3 linked regions of the Homo sapiens genome follow. The protein of the gene in region 1 interacts with the protein of each later gene in a pairwise test. Each region holds a gene or a part of one and is shown on either strand. Other genes may lie near its edges.

Evidence for each region. Proteins that work in one complex are often made in the same cells at the same time.
Region 2: the proteins of HOMEZ (region 1) and SH3RF2 interact in a two-hybrid assay, tested with the Homo sapiens proteins (2 studies listed by BioGRID).
Region 3: the proteins of HOMEZ (region 1) and LRRC7 interact in a two-hybrid assay, tested with the Homo sapiens proteins (2 studies listed by BioGRID).

The regions. Positions count from the first base shown.
Region 1 is NC_000014.9:23,271,892-23,276,143, forward strand, and holds the end of HOMEZ (homeobox and leucine zipper protein Homez), read right to left. Parts: coding exon 3,684-4,252; 3' UTR 1,001-3,683; coding exon of another isoform or gene 932-1,000; 3' UTR 531-931; downstream 1-530. Other genes in the region: E3 ubiquitin-protein ligase RNF212B, read left to right, coding at 932-1,000. UniProt on the Homo sapiens protein: May function as a transcriptional regulator.
Region 2 is NC_000005.10:146,058,537-146,063,792, reverse strand, and holds the end of SH3RF2 (E3 ubiquitin-protein ligase SH3RF2), read right to left. Parts: intron 3,928-5,256; coding exon 3,569-3,927; intron 1,368-3,568; coding exon 1,092-1,367; 3' UTR 501-1,091; downstream 1-500. UniProt on the Homo sapiens protein: Has E3 ubiquitin-protein ligase activity. Acts as an anti-apoptotic regulator of the JNK pathway by ubiquitinating and promoting the degradation of SH3RF1, a scaffold protein that is required for pro-apoptotic JNK activation.
Region 3 is NC_000001.11:70,137,881-70,144,864, reverse strand, and holds the end of LRRC7 (leucine-rich repeat-containing protein 7), read right to left. Parts: 3' UTR 501-6,984; downstream 1-500.

The sequences.
Region 1 (4,252 bases):
GAGAGTTTTTTGGTATGATGATATCGTAGTTATGTTTTTAAAAATAGCCTTTCTCTTTTATAGGTACATACTAAAGTATTTATGGATGGAAAGTCAAATGATGTCTGGCGTTTGCATCAGTGTAATTTAGTAGGGAGGGACACTGGGAGAGTAGAAATAAAAGATTGGCCATTAATTATTTGTTAAAGATGGACAATGGGCACATGAGTTCATTATACTATTCTATGTATTTTTTGAAAATGTGGGCCAGGCGTGGTGGCTCATGCCTGTAATCCCAGCACTTTGGGAGGCCGAGGCGGGCGGATTATGAGGTCAGGAGATCGAGACCATCCTGGCTAACATGGTGAAACCCCGTCTATACTAAAAAAAGTACAAAAAATTAGCCGGGCATGGTGGCGGGCGCCTGTAGTCCCAGCTACGTGGGAGGCTGAGGCAGGAGAATGGCGTGAACCCGGGAGGCGGAGCTTGCAGTAAGCGGAGATGCACCACTGCACTCCAGCCTGGGTGACAGAGCGAGACTCCATCTCAAAAAAACAACAAACAAACAAACAAACAAACAACCGAAAATGTGAAAAAATTTTAAAGTTATTGAAGGAAATGCCACCTCCTCAGAGGCCTAAGAACTCTGCCTCCCTGGTAGTCATCTCTGGGTGTGGTAGTCATATGTCCCAGATTTTCCAAAATAGTTTAATTTTCAAATATTCATCCTTATTATTATCACCATAAGCTACTGAAATGTTCCAGAGATTGTCACACTAGATGTAGCAAATCCTAGTTTGGAAAAGTTAGTTATCATGCAATGAAGAAAACTATGGGGAAGCAAAAGCAGTGGTGTCTGTCTCGATAAGCTTCATACAACAGGTCAGAGAGACTTGCTTGCCCTTTTTGCTGTTATAAACACCCACATCTACCTTCTTGTCCTCTGCTGCAGACTCTCTACCAACAACGGAGGCATATGGGATTACCCAGTGGGAGAGAAGCATGGACCACTTCTAGATAGATCATCTTCAAGATCTGATCTATACATGCTGCTGAAGGATGGACTGTAGCTTCCAGTACGCATTAGGGGTGATGGCCCTGGAAAATGTATCCCTGCATTGTTTCCTAGTTTCACTCTGTACCTTATGCTCCCCCCATCTTTACCCTATTCACCCTTATCACCTCCCAGGACAGTGGTCAGGTCTTACAAAAGGCTAGTGCTTCAGGAAGATGTTTATATCTCTTCCAGAAGACACTGGTAGCTCCCCTCATTTCCTACAATTTGGAACAAAGGTCAAAAAAATAATTCTTGGCATCATGCTTGGTTGGGAGTTGGGAATGGGGATTGTGATGGATCATATACTCATCACTGTTTCATTTCTGGATTTCATTTTTAGCTTTGGATATACTGTCCCATTGCCAATGTTAACGAGCAATATCTCTGTTCTTTTCCTTATTATACTTTTTTATTTGTCTATTATTTCCTCTATGCTTAGTTACTATTAAATGTTAATTTTCCTTTCTATTGAAAACAACTGTTGGAGACACTGATTTTCAGCTTAGTATATAGATAGTAAAATAAAGACGATGCCCTTTTATTGCTACAATTCTATCACTTTTACAAGCTCTAGAATGGTGGAATGGGCGAACAACACTATCACTGAGATCAAACATGTATTCTACTTTGGGTTTTAAAAGGCAGAAATGACGAATTAAATAGGTTAGCCACTCACAAGCTGGCCTTAAGCAAAAATACTGGAAAAACAGAAAATAGCAGGCATCTGCCAGAAATAAATTAGGTCTTGGGAATGATCTTGTATCTGAACTAGGATCCCCATACCCTTTCTGGTACTCTGAATTTATTTTAAAGGCATTTCTAGATACCTTCTCTTTTAGGCAAGGGCCTGTCCTGTAGCAAATGGAGTTACCTCCAAGACTGTTGTATCTCTGTTACTCCTGAAGCCTCAGAAATTTTAGTCATTATCATTTGATGGCTGAGAAACAACCTGGCTGGCGATAGATGCTGAACTACTTCCTTTTTACAGTTTTTGTTCTTTTAATTTACCTCAATAAGTCCTGCCCCTCCAAACAATAAGTTAAAAGTATGCTGAGTTAGAATGTTAATGGATTTGGTTCCATTAATCCCTAAACCATAGGAGTGGCAAAGTGGTTGAGAGAGAAACAATTTTATTTTTGGCCTTTTTATTATTATTCTAGCATTTTAGGGCTTCCACTCTTTTATTTTTAGATGGTTAACTCATTGATGATACCTATTTGCCATATAGCTGATCCCAACTGATGAAAACCATTCTAAAACATCAATAATTAATTCACTTAAAGACGATGGTCCCTCTGTCCCTAAGACAGATCCTATCAAGAGAGGGAAAAGTCTCTTTTCTGGAAACAAATTGACAGCAAAAAGATGAAAAATTAGTCTCTGTCAAGCTGGACAGGAGGTAGTTAACAGGTTTGTAAAACCAAACCTGAAACCTACCTTCACTGCCCTTCAACAAGGAGAAACTATTCCCTCTCTTTCACCCCTTTGTAACACAATTCTACTGTTTAAAAGGACATCTTCCCTAATTACCACCTCCAATAAATATCCATTCTAAATTATTCTCCACCCAATTATTAAAGTTTTTTACAAGCTCGGTGGGGGAAGATTTTCCCTGAGACAAACAATGAACAGAGTGAGGATTTTGGAAAGATAGAAAAAGCTACAAGGCAAAGTGGTCACAGCATAAGAACTGAAAATAGCCGGGCACGGTGGCTCATGCCTATAATCCCAGCACTTTGGGAGGCCAAGGTGGGCGGATCATGAGGTCAGGAGATCAAGACCATCCTGGCTAACATGATGAAACCCGTCTCTACTAAAAATATAAAAAAGTAGCCGGGTGTGGTGGCAGGTGCCTGTAGTCCCAGCTACTCGGGAGGCTGAGGCAGGAGAATGGCATGAACCTGGGAGGCGGAGCTTGCAGTGAGCTGAGATTGCGCCATTGCACTACAGCCTGGGCGACAGAGCAAGACTCCACCTCAAAAAAAAAAAAAAGAACTGAAAAATTCTGCCACCTGTGATTTAGTCATGAAGCGGGTGAAACATAGTCAAGTTGGTATGAGGAAAAGGAAATATTAATATTTGTGATGAGACTGGGACTTATTGAGAATCTTGGTTGTCTAGGAAATGATCAGTTACTAAGAAAAAAGTAAGAGAGTCAGTTGCATTACGCACAGACTTGTGCTCAGAAAAGGGGTACAAGGCAGCCTTATATTCCAGGTAAGATGGTGGGATTGGGGATGCACTGGAATCATCAATCAAATCAGAATCCTTTACTCCTCCTTTCCAATCCTCCTGGAGAGGTGGTGCCAACATCTGGCCTCTGTATAGTACACCAAGGGAAAAAAACAGCAGACACGAGGAGAGCAAGAGCAGCTTCCCAGCCCATGGTTTCCCCAGATCCTTAGCACTCCCTACCCTAAGGTTAGAGGGTTGGATTTCTGCTGATCCAATCCCAGCCTTACTTAGTGCCCTATGGTCATTCTCCCTGGTCCACCCTCACTATATCCCCCTGCCACCCACCCTGAAGAACACAAAGCTTTTTAGTTCTCTGCCACAAGGTAATTTTAAAAATGTGGTTTCTTTGTTTAAACAGTTACTAAGTTGGTTCATCTTTCAGTAACAGACCTCCCCTCCCCCAGCTCCCCACTCAGTCTTGTATGATCACATCATCATCATCATCATCATCATCTTCCTCCTCCTCCTCCTCCTCTTCCTCATCATCTTCTGGCAGTTCTTCCTCCTCCTCTTCCTCTTCTTCATCTAGACAAACTACCACCTCAGCTGGCTGAGGTAATCGAGAGTCAAACCAATCCAGCACCTGCTGGGTGCTAAGCCTTGATGCCTGACTCAATTGAGGGATATCAGTTTCCCGTAGCTGTTGGTGGGCTGCCCAGTACCTCTCCAAGGGTTGTATATCCGGTGGGGGTGGAGGGATCGGCAGAGGTGGTGTCTCAGCCCTTTCGTTCAAGGAGCGGGTTGATGGTGGTGGTGTAGGAATTGCTGGGTCTTGGAAACTAGGGGCACCAGGTACTGCGTTGTCCCGAAACCACTTTAGTTGCCCATGCTTCAAGGCATAGCGTGTGTCACCAAACCACTGAATGATCTCAGGCCGAGGTAAACCAGTGATCTGTTCTAACTTTTGGTAATCCTCACGCCGTGCCCACTGGCACTGTAAAAAAAAGGATTTAAGGATAGCCAGCTGCTCTTTGGTTTTGC
Region 2 (5,256 bases), on another chromosome or scaffold:
CGCCTCCCGGGTTCAAGCTATTTTCATGCCTCGGCCTCAAGAGTAGCTGGGATTACAGGTGTGCGCCATCATGCCTGGCTAATTTTTGTATTTTTAGTAGAGATGGGGTTTGATCATGTTGGCCAGGCTGGTCTCAAACTCCTGACCTCAAGTGGTCTGCCCACCTCGGCCTACCAAAGTGCCAGGATTATAGGCATGAGCCACTGCACCTGGCCCACGTTGTGCTTTCTTGAAGTCAGACTATATATCTAAACCCTAACCCCATATAAGATTGTTTGTAAGCACGCTGTGTTTTCTTGAAGTCAGACTGTAGAGCCAGGATGAATTAATTGTCCATAATGCCATACATGGCCCTATCCACAGCCACATGCTTTCTGCTTATCTATTGCATAGGATTATATGTGGGAAAATGGATCGAGAAGCTTAAAGTATGATAATCCTTTGATATTTGGTACTCAGTGATCTCTCTGACCTTCTTAAGTGGAGCATACTCAGGAAGCTGGCTCCTTCTAGTTTTATTGGGTTCTCAGAATGTTCAAAGTATCCACCTCACACCCCGCGCAGAAATCCTCCCTTTGCAGCCAGGATTATGACTTTACAGAGGGAAAAAGATATGGCAGCTACTAGTGGCCAGTGTACAGGCCCCAGAAGATGGCAGAAGTTGTTCTAATGCTTGTTGAGGATATTGTAAGGTCAAAGAAGCAACGCCAACAATCCCACCGTTGTCACACCCCTGCTGCAGCCCCCTTTAGGACACCATAGAAATTCTACACAGTAACACGGGGATGACAAGAGGCCACATACTCCATGCTGGGGCATAAAGTGGGCACGACAATTTTTCACTCCTTGGTCTGAGTAAGCGAGCTTTGTGGCATCAAATCATTATGTTTGTATGTTTGGAAGGCCACGCCATCTATCCTCCCACCCAGGGCAGGAATTTCTGCTCCCACTTTTGCTTTCCTGGAGGTGAAATAGGAAGAACAAGGACCCATGCTCAAGTCCCCAAAGAATGGCAGGATGCCCTCAGTGGAGGCAGACTGTATTTAAATGCAATTCACCTCTTTGGGGTCTAGGAAAAGCCACCCGTAGGTTCATTTGCTGGGAAACACGGTCTGCGTGCCTGAGGCAGTGGACACCAGGGTTGTGGCCTTGCCAAGAGCTGACTTTCTCCGGAGGTCTGTCTGCTGTCCGGAGTGGCAGCCACTTCGGTGGGCAAATAGGACGGTCATCTCTGGGCCCAAGGACGCTGCTTCAGGCTGGGACGCCTTGAGGGTGGCTGGCTGTTCAGGCTTTCCGGAGGTGGGATGGGAGGTGTAATGTTTGGTGGGAGGAGGGCTGTAATTCTGAAATCTCACGGTTTTGACTTGCTGCAAGAGAAAGGAGAGGAAATGGACACAGGTGAGGTGGGAGATGTCTATTTCCCCATGCTTGTCCCCACTTGAAATGTCTCATTTATGTGTTCATTCTGCAAATATCTGTGGCTACCATGAGTGTCAAGTGCTAAGATGGGGGAAGTACAAGATGCTGAGAATGCAGAGGAGCATCTAACTTCAGCTGGAAGTGGAGAAGCCAGGGAAGTCTTCCCAGAAGCTTTAAATTGAGAACCACAAAAGGATTAGGACTTATCTGGGAGAAATAGGGTAGGCCGCCGCCTATAAAAACAGCCTGAGGCAAGAGGGTATGATCCCTTCTGGAAGATTAAAGAAATTTACCTTGCCTCTCTCCTCTCTACGTACTATTAAGGCCAATCTCAAGTTTTTCCTTTTCTTTGAGGCCACTCTCCTGATGACTCCATTTAGAGATTTCCATAATGGCCTTATAAATCCTTAGAGCACAGTTTGCAAACTGGACACCTGCTGGCTGAATTTAGCCTGCAGAATGTTTGAGGGTTTGATCGACTCGCCAACACATAAAAATTGGGAGATTGCATATAAAAATCAGAATTTCATATGTCTCTTAAAAAAAAAATCAAAGCTCTGACGCACTGGGCCTATGGCTCATTCTGACAACAGCTGGCTGGACCTGAGAAGCAGTGCCCCCTTTATATGAGATGCAAGGTCTCCAGTTTATGCCAATTCCCCCTCTTCCTCTTTCCTTTCACATCTCCTAGCCTGTTATATATCTGCTAGGCACCCATAGGTACAGTATTTGCTTTAGCCAGTCTCTATCTCAGGGCCTAATAAAGCGTTCTGTGGTACTGCTCAGGAATGATGTCTTTCTTCCATGTAATGCAACCCTAGTATCCCCCACTAAGATCTGAGTTTCTTCATACGTTCTGATCCTCCTAATATCTAGCCAAGGTCTGGGCATTTATGAAATGCTTATAGTTGTATCTAAAAGCTTGGAGTAATGGGCAACTGGGGCCTAGAAAACTCTGAATTATTTCTATAATTCAGAATAAGAACTCCCAACCTTTATATATGTCAGTGCTTTTTCCAATACCTTTCCCTATGAGCTGATAGCTTAGCAGTAAGAGCATGAGTTTTGCATCAGATCTGGATTCTACTCCACACGTATGTGTCAACTGTGCGGTCTTGGGTAATGTTCTTTAACTCCCTGAGCTGCCATTTCCTAATTTTAAAATGAGGATGAAACTAATGCCTATTTGAGAGGGTTGTTGTCAGGATTAAATATATGGGACACATGAAGTACTCAGCACAGTGCCTGCCAGCTTGTTAGTATTCGATAACTGGTTAACCAATGGGGGAATCGCATCCTCTTTCCGTTCTGAGGGGAATGGACGATGATGGTGGAATGATGCTGATGGCGGTGGTGATGGAGGTGGTGATGGCGATGATGTGATGATGGTGATGTTCATAAATTAAGACAGCAATAAGCATCACCTAACTTTCTTACTGTCCTCTCTTCCCACTATTCCTCCTGCTTCAAGGATATTATTGAGAACATAAGCCTTTTACAAAAACTCTCACGTCTTCTAGTGGGAAATATCCTGGACTAGAAGTTAACAGATCTGACGTCTGCCACAGAGGTCACAATAAGGTAGTTGGAGTCATTATCATTCAGTGTGACCTCGATGTCACTTACATTATCCTGTGCCTCAGTTGCCCCTTTTATACAATGCATAATTATGTGTCAAACCCTATGTAAGCACTTCACATATCTCGTTTAATCTCCACTCCATTACTGTGTGGCCATTACTCTTTCTACCTCCATTTTACAGATTATGCAAACTAAGTGACTCAGAAGGGTGAAGTATTTTGACCAAAGTCACCCAGCTAGCAAGCAGCAAAGCTAGAATTCAAAGCAAGATTCATCTAATGCCAAAGTCATGCTTTTTTTTCAAGCCACTTTTGGGCCTCAAAAGATGTATAAAATATTCAGGAAACATAAAGGCGAATCAGTAACACATGTAGGGAGGGCGTGGGTGATGTTGGGGATGTTGGCCATGGCTCAGTGGGGAGTTGGGGAGGAGGAGTGTTATGTGTGAGGATTCTTTCGAGGCTGCAATTTTGGTTCCTTGTTCACCAACACTAAAATCTCTGAGCTGAGACACTATGCATAGTACGGGATCGAAAGAGTTGGGCCCCCAATGTCACTCTGATCCTACCTTTTCGATGCCATTTCTTGAGTTTTCTGGTTTCACCAGGATGGATGGTGGGGCAGATGCGGGCGGTTTTGGCAGAGGCTCACTCTTGATGGGGATTTCTTTGTCTTCCATAATGAGGGAGCTGGCCGCGGAGTGGATCCAGGCCTCACTGCCCCTGCTGATGCACGTGAGGGCGGGCTCCCCCGTGAGGGCAGGCTTGGACCCCATCTCCACCACCACGGCTGAGGGGGAGGAGGGGATCCCCTGTGGCTGGTAGAATTGGAACTGCTGAGGCCGAAGGACCATGGTGGGGCTGCGTCTGAGGGAGCCTACCACGAGAGTGGGGATCCCGGACTGGAGGGGTCTCTGCAGGGATCCATCTGGGGAATTATAGGACAGAGAGATCAGCAGCAGGGGCGGCTGGCAGTAGGTTGGGTGGGGCTGGGTAAGCAGTGCTTCCTGATATCCCAGAATAGACAAGCGCTTTCCTAATCTGACTGCACTCACATTCTCTCCGGGTCTTTCAAAGGTGACCTTATTCTTTTTTTAGTGCTGTTTGCTGATGCTGGCAGCAAATATCTCTCTGGCTGAATGGTGTGTGTGAGTGTGTATGTGTGTATGTGTGTAGGGGGGCTGTCAGAAGGTATATTGCTTCCATTTGCCTTGTGATACACACACACACACGCACACACACACGTACACACACACACGCGCGCGTGAAGCAGACACAGAGGCAGTCAGACCAAATAGGAAACACATGACAGAATCAGAGATAGGAAATAGAAGACATTGAGAAACACAAAGGAGAGGCAACCGAGAAGAATGAGAGAGAGGAAAAGGAGAAAGAGAGGAGGAGAGAGGAAAACTCTGCCCAGCGACTTGCTGTGAAAATCTTGACAGAAGCTTTAGGCATGTGGCAGGTGGGGGTTGCTTTTTGTCGGGGGCTGCAGGGAGAAAGGGTGAGTGGCAAGGGCTAGGCAAGCACAACAGCAGACAAAGGCAAATTTGGAAAGGTTATTCCACAGTTAGGGCTGTGAGGATGGGCTTTGCAATGTCTCATGACAGAGGATCTGGAATCAGACCTCCTCCTGGAAAGCCTGGGATGAGTTAAGTCACGTCACCTCTCTGCACCTCAGTTCTCTCGTTTGTAAGCTGGAGATAATAACAGTACATCATTGGGCTGCTGTGAGGATTGCATTCTATTTGGTGTGCAAAGTATCAGGATAGTGCCTGGAATATGATAAATGCCGCATGTCTGTTAGCTATCATTATTTTTGGGTAAAGGATCACATATCCTAAAAATGCAAGGTCCAAGAGCTTGGTTTTGTCCCTTCCTGAGCTCATTGTTTTTCTTTTCCTTTTTTTTTTTTTTTTAAATTGAGATGGTCCTGTCTCAGGAAAAGGTCATTTCTTCCCCTCAAATTCTCTGGAAGGCAGGAGATCCCCATCCATTGGACATATATCCTGTAGGTGACCTGGGGAATCAGGAGTTCATTGCATTCTGTGGGGAAGTGGAGGAGACACCCATGAGAAACACACTGGGCCATTTCTCCATAGGGGCCCCTCAGCATTTAGAGAAGCTGTAGGTTTTGTCCCAGCCAGCGTTGTTAGTCCTTTGTGACACTCCAAGGACTTGAGTTTGAATCAAAGTCATTTGTGTCCAGCACAGAGGGTCTGAGCCAAGGCCACGTCTGCATCGTGACTTCTTA
Region 3 (6,984 bases), on another chromosome or scaffold:
ATTGCTAATAAAGATAAATACTACATGTTCAGAATAAAAGTTACATTTTTCAAATATTGATTACAATGTTTATGTTTTCATTTTAAAAAAAACATGCCTTTTTGGCTGGGGGCAGTGGCTTACGCCTGTAATCCCAACACTTCGGGAGGCTGAGGCGGGCAGATCACTTGAGGTCAGGAGTTCAAGACCAGCCTGGCTAACATGGTGAAACCCCCGTCTCTACTAAAAATACAAAAAACAAAACCAAAAAAAACTATCCGGGCATGGTGCATGTGCCTGTAATCTCAGCATCTTGGGAGGCTGAGGCAGGAGAATCACTTGAACCCAGGAGGCAGAGGATGACAGAGTGCTGAGATCGCGCCACTCTGTACTCCAGCCTTGGGTAAGAGTGAAACTCCTCCATCTCAAAAAAATAAAAAATAAAAACAAAAACATGCCTTTTTCTTATTACATCTCTGTTGCTGACTACGAGGTCTGCTTTGATAGTAAACAAAAGACACTTTACAATAAGGTGACATTTTATTATTTATACAATAAGGAGACTTTTATGTTATTCAAAACACTTTTTTAAATACTGAAAAAGTTGAGTACACCAAAGCCGAAAAATGGCTCTGCTATACACTGCACAGCATTATTTTAGTCCCTGTATTTTGTATCTGTACAGAAAGCATCTTCAAAATGCATTCTAATCACATTGTACACCTTTACCAATTAGTGTCAGTACATAAAATAAAACTGGAGAATACAGCTTGCATTTGCAAATTAACTGACAGTAATTAATTTCACTGGTTCAGTAAATTTAAAATATAGATTCATAGGACTTCTTTGCACATAAAATGAAGCAGCTTTCAAGGTTGTTATGGTCTCATACTGCAAAAAAACCAGTAAGTACATTCACGATCTATGTTAATAAAGTAGTAAATATGTCTTCATTCAGTTTTATTTACATCAATATGTAGTTCAACTAAAAAGTACTTTTAATTGTGATATAGTAGTCTTTTTAACACATACAAAAATGACAATTTTTTATATATAATTTAAGCTCAAAATCACAATTATCTCAAAATATTAATTACAATACAGCCATTTCAGTTAAACATGTTGTGATTTGATTTTTTTTATAAAATGGTAAAATTGTATTATTAAAGTAAGCAATTTGTTTTGAATTGGCTAGAGTACACCCAAGTAGAAAACCTTAAATGTGAAGAGGTGTTTCCTGCCCCCTCCCACCCGAATTTGTATACAGCCACCTAGGCTAGCAAAGAGACAGAAAAGGCCCCAATTTATAAAGATTAAGCCTCTTTTGCTATACTGCTGTGGCTTGTTGGTTCTTCCATAAAAGCTTTACAAGGGTAGTGTCAATAAACTATGCAGTGAAATGCATGCATTAATATACAATATGTCTATGTAAAATGTCAATGTTTACTATTGCACATTAAAAGGTTCACAAAGACTGCAAAAGAAGTCATAAAGAAGCACTTTCTTTACCAGTCGAATATTGTAAATTTGAAAACGACTTGATAATATAATGGGATTTCTTTGAAATCAGATCCCAATTCAAGTTCTTTCTCTGGCTAAAGGAGCTCTGGTTACTTGGCCTTAAGATGTCACTGTTGTGCTGCACATATGGTAGTGAAGTCAGAGATCATTAAAAAAAAAAAAAAAGTCTAGAGACTCTTCATTTTACTAAAATAGCGACCCAAAGTTGTATCACTGCTTAGGAATTTTTCTTAAACTTACAGAAGAGTGAAATATTTCACTAACTGAATTATATGAGCTGAAATGAGAAAAAGAAAATTTATGTGTGTGTGTTTGGCATATGGGAAAATACAAATTCATATAGGTAGAAGTAGAACTTCTTTATAGAGTAGTAAAAGGATTATGCCCCAAAATAACTGAGGTCAAAAGTAATCAATTATGAAATCGTTTAGGAAAAAATAATTTTCATAGATACTTAGAAAACATCCAAAACATAATATCTAGTATCCTTTTACATATAATTCTTAACAAACCATCTGAAAACCTACCACTGTCTTCCTTCAGAATTGCTTATGTTAGTTTAATATTTCTTTTTTGAATAGAAAGACCCTAGTTCATGTTATGGTTTTCTTATATATAGCTGGTTGGGGGAGCCCTTGGGCAGTTATAAAGTGGAAAAAATAAAACTGTATTATTACTTTCAATAAGCAACAGTAATCTTGCAGTAGTTTCACTTTTTTCAAGGTCTTTTGTGGTGGTCTTTAAAATTTACAAACAGAATTTGGTAGATTTACTTCTAATTTTCCACTAGTAAAAAATTTCTTCTTCATATGAAGACAATGTCATTATCCTTAAGCTTCCTTTAGTCCCTACTGAGTACAAAGAGAAACTTGATTGGCTCTTCAAACAAAAACTATCTGTTTATCTGTCAATTACCTTTCTCTTCATTTCAAACAGAAAATAGGCTTGTGTTTTCAAGGATGAAAGTGTATTTGAGGATGTTAAAGAGAAATGCCCAAACATTATAAAGCCGAAGTATTAAGCATTCATTGCATTCCACTGACGCTAGGTGTCATCAAAGCTAAAACCAAATTTTCTAGAGTAAAACTTACATACAACAGTCCTTACTGACCTGAACCAGATGCCTTTTCCACATTCAAGCCAAATAAGAGTCCTCTGAGTGGAAAGACTACAAGTATTGAAAATAAAAATTATTTCAACAATATATTCTGAAAATTAATGACCTTTCTAGCAGATATGGGAGCTGCTTTATGTTGTCTGCCTGAGAGTTTCATCTTGCTTTTCCTATGGACCGTCCAAAAATATTACATAAGATTTCCTGACTAAATAAGAAATATTCTTTAGTAGAGGGTTGGGGAAGGGTAAGAGGAATGGAGAGATACAAAGAAATACAATGTGATTTCTTTTGTCCATTTGTCAAATGCTTTCGTTAAGCTATTAAAAAGGTCAATTGACCTGCATACCTGGGCATTATTTAACCTCATTATTTTAGCTGTGCAAAACAAATGTGCAAAGAAAAACACCTCCTATTTATGTGTGCCTATACATAGACACAAAACCTGAGTCACCATAAAAGTTTTCAATATAAGAAACCTTTTCTTAATATAGGAAAATAACCTTTAAAGAGCCAAAAATATCTTTGTACAATATAAGCAGCTAACTTTAAAACTTCAGTGTACTTAAGTATCACATATTTTATAAGATCCAGCAAAAAAGGGATCATTTACATTTGATAATTTTCTTAACTATAGCTGAGATAACCACATTTTAATTTCTAACATGTATTTTCATTCCCCTGAATTCATTGATTTTTTTTTTAAAGCACATTCAAATAAGTCCTGTTTAATTTCTGACAAACAGTTCCTGCTTGTTTCTAGATATTGAGGACATAGGAGATTTAGGATTGCTAGGCCTATAATTTAGTGCCAAGCCACAATGGAATTCCAAAGTTCAAAACAAAATATATCATTTTATTAAGAGAAACATTATTTGCAAAAGTATTTGTAGACAGAGTTGGGCCAAAGTCTGCATGAAGCTATTGTCTCATTTGCAGGCTCCCTTTCTACTGACTTAACTCTTAAAAACCCTTTCTTTCTCCATGCTCCATTTCCTTATTTTTCAGTAGGCTTCATACCCTTTTCGTACCTGAACCCTGAATTGTCCCAACTGAATGAAGCTCCCTTGCTCATTTGCAGCCACCAGTTAACAATGTCCTCTTATCTACATCTTTTGTTATCTCTTCCTCTTTATGAGCTTAGAACTCTGGGATGACTCCTTGGCCTCTCCTCCTGTGCCACTTAACTACTCATTAGAGGAAAATCTGCTTGAGTGTTCCATTGCCTTATTAGTCACTGATTTAAGGCTCAATTCAGGACATACTTATTCCCTGGGCTACACCTCAGTTGCGAACTGAGGAAAGTTGTTTATAGAAAAATGACTGAAAGTTGCTTCTCGATGCTGCTCCCAGTGGTCCTTGTCATTAATTATGCATTTATGTCAGTTAAGTCACTGACACTTAGGGAGAAGGGAAAGCCATCTGAACCAAAATATTCAGTCTTTGTGGCTGTGATTGGATAGGAGGGCCTTTGAATACTTGTATCAGTAAAGAGATACTGGGCAGGGCCCTTGAATGCTTTTTTTCTCAAGCCTGGTTTGGGAATAAGGTGGAAAATGCATGCAAGAGAGTAAAGGATTAGAGGCATTAGCCAAGGGAACTGTAGTCAATTCCTGACTTTTTATATTATACTTGCCTGAGGATCACCAGAAGGATTTTGTCTTGTGCAGAAGGCTAAAAGCAGAGTCATACTTTCTCTGCCAACAGACTTGTTGCCATGGGAACCAGTGCAGAAAAATGAAAATATGACAAGAAGCCAAGGATTAAATGTAGAAAATTGATAGGGAGTTGATTTCTACATGGCAATTTAAGCATTGAGGATTTAAAGAAACAGGATGTTCCTTATGTGGCCAGATCAATGAAAATGGACAAAATGACTTACCAGTAGCTGGTCCTAGGGGGCTGAGGTGTGGAAAATGGAAGGAGAAAGTAGTAAGCGTGCTGTAGTTTGGATAAGGGGAACTTTGTAAAATCTAATTCCACTCCTGATGAGGTTAAGCTTGCAGCCCAATGTTAAAATTAACTGTAGGATCAAATATACCCTTTGGAAAGGCATGCCCATGCTTAGCTTGATAAAAGCAGCCTGATGTAACAATTTTCTTTTCACCTTTCCAAAACCAGCACATACTACTCGACAAGATTATTGCACATCTAGTTTATTATTGCTTGATGTATCTTTTCAATTACTCCAACACACAAAAAAACGAAAAAACCCACCATTTGCAAATCTATGCCTCCCTTCCCCCAATAAGGCAGCTATTGTAAGTACCCTAGAATTAAGTTTCTCATTAAGGAAATAATTATTTTACTTCATGTGATACAAGTCCTCCCTGTGTACCCTTCTCTGTCATTCAGTACTTAATAATAAACTGATCAAACCAGACTGTAGGAGTCCAGGAAAACCTTTAACAAGGATTTGGAGTTTCAGCATAATCTGAGAAGGACCTACATGTTGTATTTTCAAAGGCTCTAAGGAGACTGTACCTGCCGTGTCTCCGAAGCTTTCCTGAAAACCTACAATTAATGTCTCATTCCTATGACTTCAGCTTTGGCCTATTTTGAAATGCAGTTGCTCTAAGGAGATGTAGGAAGGTCACCCTGTAAAGGATTTGATTTAACCCTTCCTGCAGAGCTAGTTTTCAAATAGTAATGGCACACTTCACCTGATGTCCTCTTCTTCCCTCACCCACAAAGGAAAAACTAAAAACATAACGTCCACCTGGGCAATGGGTAGGGCTAGAGGCCAGGAAGTAGGAGACAAGCCATTATAGCATAGTTGTCTTTAGGGTACATCTGAATCCAAATGGTCTGAATAAAATATGCTCTTTGTGCAGTGTTACGTACACTGGACAGATTTCACTAGACATGCTTGTTTTCTTTCTCACTTATGACTTCTGGATCTATTTGTTAGAGTTCATTACTGAAGCCTTTGACAATCTCAATGAGTTCTTGAAATGTCAAAAGCTCGTTAATTTCCTTTATCCCAAGAGTACTTAATTCTGAATCTGAATTCTGAAATCCAATAAAACGCCTGAATGTTCTATCACTTGCTGTTTGATAGTACATGCAGGACCCTAAACAGAGGTTTGAATACTGAGATACTGCTGACACAGAATTCCTTATATCAATATTCTAGTGACTTTTAGGATTGGAGACTTGTGGGCTTGGTTTTTGCAGTAGGAAGCATTAGAATAACCTGATGCAGGACTAATTGAAGCTACATAAAGCATTGCTTTTTCCTAAAGGCAGGTAGGCAGATCTCTTTCTCCGATAGGCAAATAAAACATAATAGGGTCTTCACGAGCAGCTATGCCTTTGAATTTAACATATGATAGAGACTGCTGCTTTTCATTTCTAATATGGTCTCTTTAAAATCAGGTAGCTGATGCCTGGAGGAAGACTAGCTGGTCAGGATTAAACTAAAAATGATTAGCTTTTTCTGTGACCTGGCACTGATCTTCTCACTGGTAGATCATACCTTGGACAAACGAGCTCCTCCACACAGAAAGGCCACCAGATACTACTGTATTTAATGGTTTTACTACATCTATGCATTCTTCTGGTAAGAATCTAAAATAGTTTAAAAAATCTCATAGGGTATTGAGAATTTAAATTTGGCTCCTTAAAAATTTTGAAACAATTTGATTAATCCTCTCAACTTTCTATGAGGTTGTACAAATGATTATTTGCTATATCATGTACCTTAAAGAGTTAATAGACATAACTTCTGTAGTTTTCCTTAGTTTATCATATAGCTCAGTCACAAAAGGACCAATATCCCTCATTTTAGAATATTTATTGCTTTCTACTACCACAAGTATTTGGAATTTTAAAAAAAGACTTTTAAGTAGAATAATGATGTCTGTGTAGTAGGCATTATGCTTTACAGAACTGATCTTTTTTAAAAGGTGGCTTCTCCATGTTGACAACTGAATATACAAAGATACAGAGCTTTTTTTTCAATACCTTTCAACCTGGATCTCCAGTAATATGCCCAAACTGGTACTTGAAGGTCAGGAGTCCTTTGATTAAGTATTTAAAGGCACAATCTCCATTTTCAAATGTAAGCATGCTGCACAATCCATCACATATTTTTAATCAATTCACATTTTCTAAGTTGATGCGCAATGACACTAAGTTTCTACAAGGAAAAACCAAACACTTCATCACAAAATGGCAGCTAATTTTCCAGACCATAACTGAATTCATACACTTTTTGAACTCAACTTTATTATACAGTCGCTGTTCTACATCTAGGCTAATCCTGAGTGAAAAATCTTTGATTTTAACCTCAAAGAGCAAGCAAAAACTCTGGGATTTTGTTGGAAATAAAGCCATATGGACTATTAATATTCTCTTGCTGGTGTAAT